Linked DNA regions of Homo sapiens. The protein of the gene in region 2 interacts with the protein of the main gene of each other region in a pairwise test. Each region holds a gene or a part of one and is shown on either strand. Other genes may lie near its edges.

Region 1 (3,500 bases), on a different chromosome or scaffold from region 2:
CTGCTATTGTCTTACATGGCTGAGCCTGGGTAAGTCTTGTCTCAGTTCACACTTCAGGCCCCCAGTGAGTGAGGTGGCCGTGATGACGCTCTTGTTTAACAGGCAAGTAAAGCCAGGGTGTTGAACTCTACGGAAGTGGGCCGGGCGCAGTGGCTCACGCCTGTAATCCCAGCACTTTGAGAGGCCAAGGCAGGTGGATAAGGAGGTCAGGAGATTGAGACCATCCTGGCTAACACGGTGAAACCCCGTCTCTACTAAAAATACAAAAAAATTAGCCGGGCGTTGTGGCGGGCGCCTGTAGTCCCAACTACTCGGGAGGCTGAGGCAGGAGAATGGCGTGAATCCAGGAGGCGGAGTTTGCAGTGAGCTGAGATCGTGCCACTGCACCCCAGCCTGGGTGATAGAGCGAGACCCTGTCTCAAAAACAAAACAAAACAAAACAAAAAAATCTACGGAAGAAAGGAACCATGTGAAAGAGCGTTTGCTAATGATCTGTCTGTCTGATGAGAATTGTGTGTATAGATTTGTGTATACACAAATATGGATGTTCACTGTATAAATCAATGTGTAAATGTGTCCGAGAACTCCAGAGTTGATGAGGGCTTGTAATGCACTTAAAGGTAGCTCACCACAAGACAGTCTTCCTATCTGAAATCAGCATTGCAGTCCCAGCCATTTCCTGAAGCTACCACCCTCACTTTCTCCCCAACTCTGAAATGCTTTTCACTCTCTACCTAGGCTGAAGCCGACGTAGCTTCTCTGAACAGACGCATCCAGCTGGTTGAGGAAGAGTTGGATCGTGCCCAGGAGCGTCTGGCAACAGCTTTGCAGAAGCTGGAGGAAGCTGAGAAGGCAGCAGATGAGAGTGAGAGGTGAGAATGCCTCATCAGCCATCTTTTGCAGCTGCCTTTCCTGGTGGAATAAACCGGAGGGCTCCTGTGATCTTTGAGGTTTAAGAATTTTTCAGTCCCCTGGTGGTGGGATCATTTCCTCTATTGATCCCAGGTATAACTCGGTTGGTTTTGTTCATTTAGCATTAGTGAAACACCTACTATGTCCAAAGCACTGTCCTAAGCCCTAAGGTTACAAAGAAGAAGATGATCTTGTTCCTGCCCTTACAGAACTCACCATCTAATGAGGGAGACAGACATGTAAAGGAGAAATGTCAGGGATACAAGTTGGCCCTTTCACTCCTACTGACCACAGAGCAATTGTGCATTTTTTAAAGTGTAACTTTATTTTATAATATACAAGGAGGCTTAGGTGTAAATAAAGGAACTGTGGACTATCAGTTGTCAAAATAGCTTAACAAATAGGTGGAAGAAAAAACACAAAGCAGAAACATGGTCTGCAAAAGTAAAATATTTTGGACTTGGTCTTAGTAATATACACAACACACATGCACACAAATAGTCAGATGCTCGTGTGTTCTGAGCCCACCTCCACTGTAATCTGGCTGTAGCTGAATTATTACTCAGATTCAGCTTTGTGGTAGTAAAGGAAAGCATGGTTCGTATAGACCAGCACAGCCTTGTGTGGTCTAAAAGGCATTTTCCCTTAAGCTCAACTGTTGGAAGTAAGGATTTGCCATATTGCATAGAAGTACTTCAAGAGAGACTCCATGAGGTGAGAGAGCGTTCTGCCGCTTGAGGGATGGCATAGCATGAAGGGGCTCAGAGCACTGAATGTGTATCTGTCTGTGCTGTGACCTGGGCAAGTGAATGCAGTCAGTCATCTTGTCCATTTCTTACTCTTTGAAGTGACCCTACCACTAGGTACCAGGTATAAAGAGTGATTTCAGACTTTAGGATTAAAGAAGATTTTTAGCTAAACTTTTTAGGCCATTATTCACCGCTGCTTAGTGTTTCTTCGCTAACCAAGCATTTTGGACTTCTTTAAGATGACTAAGCATCTTACAGTGTACGCATAAGAGCAGTTTTGTGGCTGACTTCTTTCTGAAATATACTTGTTAGTGTACCTTAAAGGCAGTCTGGTAATGTTAGACTTCGGAGTAAAGGGGACTTGGGGATCATTTAGTCCCTTAGTTTTACAAATGAGAAAAGTAGGGCTCAGAGGCTGATGTGACTTGCACCAAGGCTCACAGCATATTTGTGGCTAAGCCAAGACTCCGACCCAGATCTCCTCAACTGTATTCCAATGCTTCATCAAAAGATAGTGGGCCAGATGTGGTGGCTCACACCTGTAATCCCAGCACTTTAGGGGGCCGAGGCGGGCAGATCACTTGAGGCCAGGGATTCGAGACCAGCCTGGCTAACGTGGCATAACCCCTAAATCTACTAAAAAATAGAAAACTTAGCCAGGCGTGGTGGTGCACACCTGTAATCCCAGCTACTCGGGAGGCTGAGGCAGAAGAATCGCTTGAACCCAGTAGGTGGAGGTTGCAGTGAGCCAAGATCACACCACCGCACTCCAACCTGGGTGACAGAGCGAGACTCTGTCTCAAAAAATAAAAATAAAAAAATAGTGGTTCACTTATACTGCCTACTTAAATTTTGATAAATGAATTCCATTTTACATGACTTGTTATTCCATATATCTGTAAAATATCATAGGTCATTTAGTATTTTTCTGAAACATTACACCACGCTATAGGACCCTAATATACACCATGCCATAGGACCCTAATACACTCAGTGTAGAGGACAGTGTCAGGCCTGTCTCCCAGCATTGCTGTCATGAAAGGGTTCCATTATAGGTAAAACTTAATTTGATGCATTCAGTTGAACCATAAGAAATTGCCATTATTACTTGTCTGAAATGGTCAAATATCAGCATTCTTTGTGGACTTAATAGTTTATTAAATCTAACATTAAGTCTAATATTTTTGTTTATGGGTGGCAGGGTAAGAAGATTCTTTGTAGAAAGAGGTATATAAAGATAAGTTTGATTTTGTTCTAGCTTTGGTTCATGTGCAAGCTGAGGCTTCCCACAGGAAAGGCAAGAAATCTCATTATCTTTTTAATAGTAAAGCATATTGGCTTTTCCGGTTTCATACTGCCAAGATTCAGACAGATTCCTGACGTGGTACCTTTCGTCATCATTAATGTTAGATGCCTGATAGTTTCATCAGTACTCAAAGTGAGAGAGTTCATTCACAGTGAACAGAGAGAAATGTGTCTCTTTTTTCCACCTTTAGCTCTGGAAATTGTTGTTTCCTGGTTTGGAAAATAAAAGTAGCTCTGTGCTCTATTTTGGTCTACCACTTACACTAAGCCTCACAAGCCACAGCAGTGCAGTGTGCATTTGGGAAGTTCAGCTCTAAATCTTGGGTTTTCTTGCTTGTCTTTCTTTTCAGAGGCATGAAAGTCATTGAGAGTCGAGCCCAAAAAGATGAAGAAAAAATGGAAATTCAGGAGATCCAACTGAAAGAGGCCAAGCACATTGCTGAAGATGCCGACCGCAAATATGAAGAGGTCAGATCCTGGGGCCCAAAGCCTTGTGGACACCCAGCAGTGGCCTTCAGGAAGCCAGGGAGCAAT
Region 2 (4,092 bases):
CCTCTTTGTTCATTCTTTACTGACCATTCGCACAAGGTCGTGGGTTGTGGGGACCCAAGCATAAACCAGGCACGCTACCCACAAAAGACTCTGTGCACTGCGGACCACACAGGGCACATGCATACAGTGACAGAAAGCAAACGGGGCCGCCCCAGAGACCCCGAGACAAGCCGCAGGGCGCCCACCGCTCTCCTTCCCTGGTGCTCCCACCGCTTTCTGTCGAGTCTGTGGGCCTGCCTGTCTCCACGAACTCAGGTAAGGCACCGAGTCTTGCCCAACGTCTGCACTCCGCAAACGCCTGTGAAGGCGTCCCTGAAGGTGAGGGAAATGGCTCTGCTGTCAGAAGCCAGCGTTCAAAGCCCCACTCGGCCCCGTCTCGGCTGTGTGACCTTGGGCGCGTCACAGCCTCTCAGAGCATAGGTTCCGACAGGTGCCCGACTATAAACCGGCAGCGTCGCCCTCCCCACCTCCGGGGCCTTCTGGGGTGCGGAGCGAGCGAGCAGGTCCAGCGCTGCCTGCGCGCCCGATTACAGGAGAGGCGCGGGCCTTCCAGTGCCCTAGCCGGGACCCGGCCCCCGTCGCGCCGCTCACCCAGTTTCCGAAGCCGAACTGCTCGATGGCGTCCAGCAGCAGCTGCTCCTCGCGACTGGTCCAGCCGCCCTCGGCCTCGGGCCCCCAGAGCGTGAAGCGCCCGCCGTCCACCAGCTGGTAGCCGTGGTAGCGGCGGTGGTGGCCGATCTCGGCGCCGGCCGAGAAGCACTCGGGGCACAGCTCGATGTCCTGGCACTCGGTGCAGCGGAAGCGCAGCGGGCTCACCTCGGCCAGGCAGTACACGCAGTACTTCTTCCCCAGCTCCGCCATCTTCCCCCGCTCGCCGCCCGCCGCCCGGCCCGCCGCAGCCGCCGCGCCCCCGGCCGTCAGCGCCCCGCCGCCCGCGGGACCCGCCGCCGCCGCCGCGCACGAGCAACCGCCGCCCGCCGCCGCGGCTGCCGCCACCGCGGCCCCAGCCCAGCCGCCGCCAGAGCCAGCCAGCCGGGCCGCGTCCCCCCTCAGTACGCAGGCGCCGTCCGGCCCGGCCCGGCCGCCACCGCCGCCGCAGCTGTCGCCCCGCCGCATCGCGCAGGCGCCCCGCGGGCGCCACCTTGCGGACGCCCGGCCCGCCGCTCTGCGCCTGCGCGCCCCCCGCGCCGGCCACCGCCGCCTTTCCCAGAGCCTCCTGAACGCCCCGCCCCAGGCCCGGCGGTGGGAAATGGGCAGGCAGAAAGCCCGGCGGGGGCGCCACGCCCCTCGCGGCGAGAGCCCACGGCCGCTTCCAATCAATCTCGCCTATCGTCAGCTCGCGGCCTCCCATTGGCTTGCTCTCGCCGGGCAGCGGGGAGAAGGCGCTGGACGACGGCCTGTCGCCTGGCCAATCGCCGGGCCCAGCGCGCGCGCCTTCTGTTGCCCCGGGAAACCTAACAGCGTCCTGCCGGGGTCCGCTGCGCTGGCCGAGCCGGGAGGAGATGGACGTCAGCTCTGAGCACACTAAGGACCCCGGCGGGGAAGGCGGAGACGGGGAAAGCCTGGCCGCGCGGCCGTCCAAGATCAAGGCCAGCTCTGGCCCTCCGACCTCTCCCGAACCCGGGGAGCTGGAGTCGGAGCCGGAGGAGGAGGAGGAGGAGCAAGCGGCTTCGCAGGGAGGCACCGCCGCGGACGAGCAGGCCGAGGCCCCGAAAGGGCTAACGGCAGCCGAGGCTGCGGGCGAGGAGGGGCCTGGAGAGCCGGGGAGGCCGGCCGAGCCCCAGCCCGAGCCCGAAGAGCCGGCCGAGGTTGGGGCTGAGGAGCCCGCCCAGCCGGAGCCCGGAGCCGGGCCCGAGGAACTAGAGGCGGAGGCGGGGGCGGAGGAACTGGAGCAGGCGGCAGAGGGGAAGGAAGTCAGGTTCCAGGCCTCTCTGCCGCTGACCAGGATCGATGAGGAAGAGGCTGCTGCAGCCCCGGAGGCCGAGACAGAGCGGGTGGAGGGGGAGGAAGAGGACAAGGAGGAGACGCAGAGAGACGGCGCGGAGAGCAAGGAGAGGGATGGGGAAGGACGCCCGGCCAAAAGCCAGGAAGAGGGGAAGCGCCTCTATGGAAGGGACGAGTTTGAGGACCTCGAGTGGTCCGAGGAGGTCCAGAAGCTGCAGGAGCAGCAGCTGCGCAGCGACCTCCTGGACCAGTACCGTTCCCTGCTGGTGGAGCGGAACCGCTCCCAGCGCTACAACCTATACCTGCAGCACAAGATCTTCGAGGCGCTGCGCAGAAAGAAGGGCCTGGAGGCCGCTGAGGTGGCTGACCGGGGCGCAGAGGCCGAGGCCCCCGAGAAAGAGCAAGCGTACCTGCGCCATCTGGGCATGCTGGAGGAGCTGAAGAAGCAGCAGGCAGACGACCTGCAGTGGTACCACCAGGAGCTGGGCCAGTTGAAGCGGCAGTGCCAGGAGAAGCTCACCAGGGTGGAGAAGGAGTGGCGACGCTTCCAGGCACTCAAGAAGCAGGTGGTGATGCAGGCCATGGGCAGCTGTCGGATGAGGGGCGGGCGCCAGGCTGCTCTGCGAGAGGTGGAGCAGATCCAGGCGTTGGAGGATAAAAAGGAGAAGGAGATGAGCGCCGTGCGGCTGGAGAACATTCAGCTGAAGCAGAGCCTGGTGCATTTTGAAACCAGGATGAGGACCCAGGAGGACCTGACCCAGGGTCTGCTTCTTATTGACTTTGAACAGCTGAAGATTGAGAACCAAACCTTCAATGAGAAAATTGAGGAACGAAATGAGGAACTTTTAAAACTTCGCAGCAAGGTGACCAACAGTGTGCAAGTAATAACCCACGTGAAGGAAAAGCTGCACTTCATGGACATGGAGAACGCGTGCAAAAAGACACAGCTGGCAGAAATCGAGGCCCAGGCCGCCCTAGGAAGAGACATCCTGACCAAGACGAAGCAAGCCCGAGAGGGGCTGCGGACGGACAACATCAGACTGAATCAGAAGTGCGGCCTTCTAGGCAAGGACTCACTTCTTCGGGACTTGGAAGAAAAGGTGGACAAGACCGAACTGCTTCACCGGCGCCTGGAATCCCTGAAGCGCCACCACGCTAGCCTCACTTTGTCCTGCAGAGGCGTGAGGCAGAAGATCAGGGAGGCCAAAGCCTTTCTCCCTTCTTGACCAGATCGATGAGAAGAGTCTGCAAAACACTTCATCCTCAGGACGTGCTGTCCTGCTTTATTTTACCTTCGTTGCTATTAAAAAGGCCTGTGTCATTTGGGACGGGACTCTATTTTGTATTTATCTCAAAACGTTTTAGCTTCCAAATCAGTGCTGAGCCCAAACCTGGGTTAGGAGTTTTATCTGGGATTGAGCAAAAATAGGTCCAGAAAAGCAAACAAAGGGTGATTTAATGTAACTGACTTCTCATGAAAAACTGTCAAAAGTCTCAAGTCTGAGCAATTCTATAATTTCAGTGATGTAATACTAAAGAGTACTGTTCCTCTTTCATATGTAGGAGGGTTTAAAAGTTCAGCGAATGGGCAAGGTACAAAAAAACCCTGTGCATTAAGCTAATTATTAAATTCTTTGGATTTATTAAATTATGTAGTCCCGAGACACTGTTTCAGTTAGAAGCTCACTAATCCCCTTAGATTAATCTTAAATTTAAGTGATTTTGGGCCGGGCTAGGTGGCTCACCTCTATAATCCCAGCATTTTGGGAGGCCGAGGTGGGCAGATCGTGAGGTCAGGAGATCGAGACCATCCTGGCTAACACGGTGAAACCCCATCTCTACTAAAAATACAAAAAATTAGCCAGACCTGGTGGCGGGCGCCTGTAGTCCCAGCTACTCGGGAGGCTGGGGCAGGAGAATGGTGTGAACCCTGGAGGCAGAGCTTGCAGTGAGCTGAGATCGCACCACTGCACTCCAGCCTGGGCGACAGAGCGAGACTCTTGTCTCAAAAAAAAATTTTTTTTATATGTGACTAGCACGAGCTTAGGGGGCAATAAAAATATCCAGGAAACAGGAGAGATGATAAACAGGAGAGGAGCTGATGTTTCTTCATCGTCCCTTTTTCAATGAAAGGGAGTTCAGTCTACT

What was found. The genes of interacting proteins can lie anywhere in the genome.
Region 1: the proteins of CFAP184 (region 2) and TPM1 interact in binary tests that used the Homo sapiens proteins (3 or more experiments, as listed by UniProt).

Annotation. Positions count from the first base shown.
Region 1 is NC_000015.10:63,056,247-63,059,746, forward strand, and holds part of TPM1 (tropomyosin alpha-1 chain), read left to right. Parts: intron 1-738; coding exon 739-872; intron 873-3,316; coding exon 3,317-3,434; intron 3,435-3,500. UniProt on the Homo sapiens protein: Binds to actin filaments in muscle and non-muscle cells. Plays a central role, in association with the troponin complex, in the calcium dependent regulation of vertebrate striated muscle contraction.
Region 2 is NC_000004.12:7,040,349-7,044,440, reverse strand, and holds CFAP184 (cilia- and flagella-associated protein 184), read left to right. Parts: upstream 1-1,439; 5' UTR 1,440-1,502; coding exon 1,503-3,170; 3' UTR 3,171-3,592; downstream 3,593-4,092. Other genes in the region: TADA2B (transcriptional adapter 2-beta), read right to left, coding at 592-861. UniProt on the Homo sapiens protein: In complex with CFAP263, acts as a regulator of ciliary beating that connects radial spoke 3 (RS3) to the inner dynein arm (IDA) and the nexin-dynein regulatory complex (N-DRC).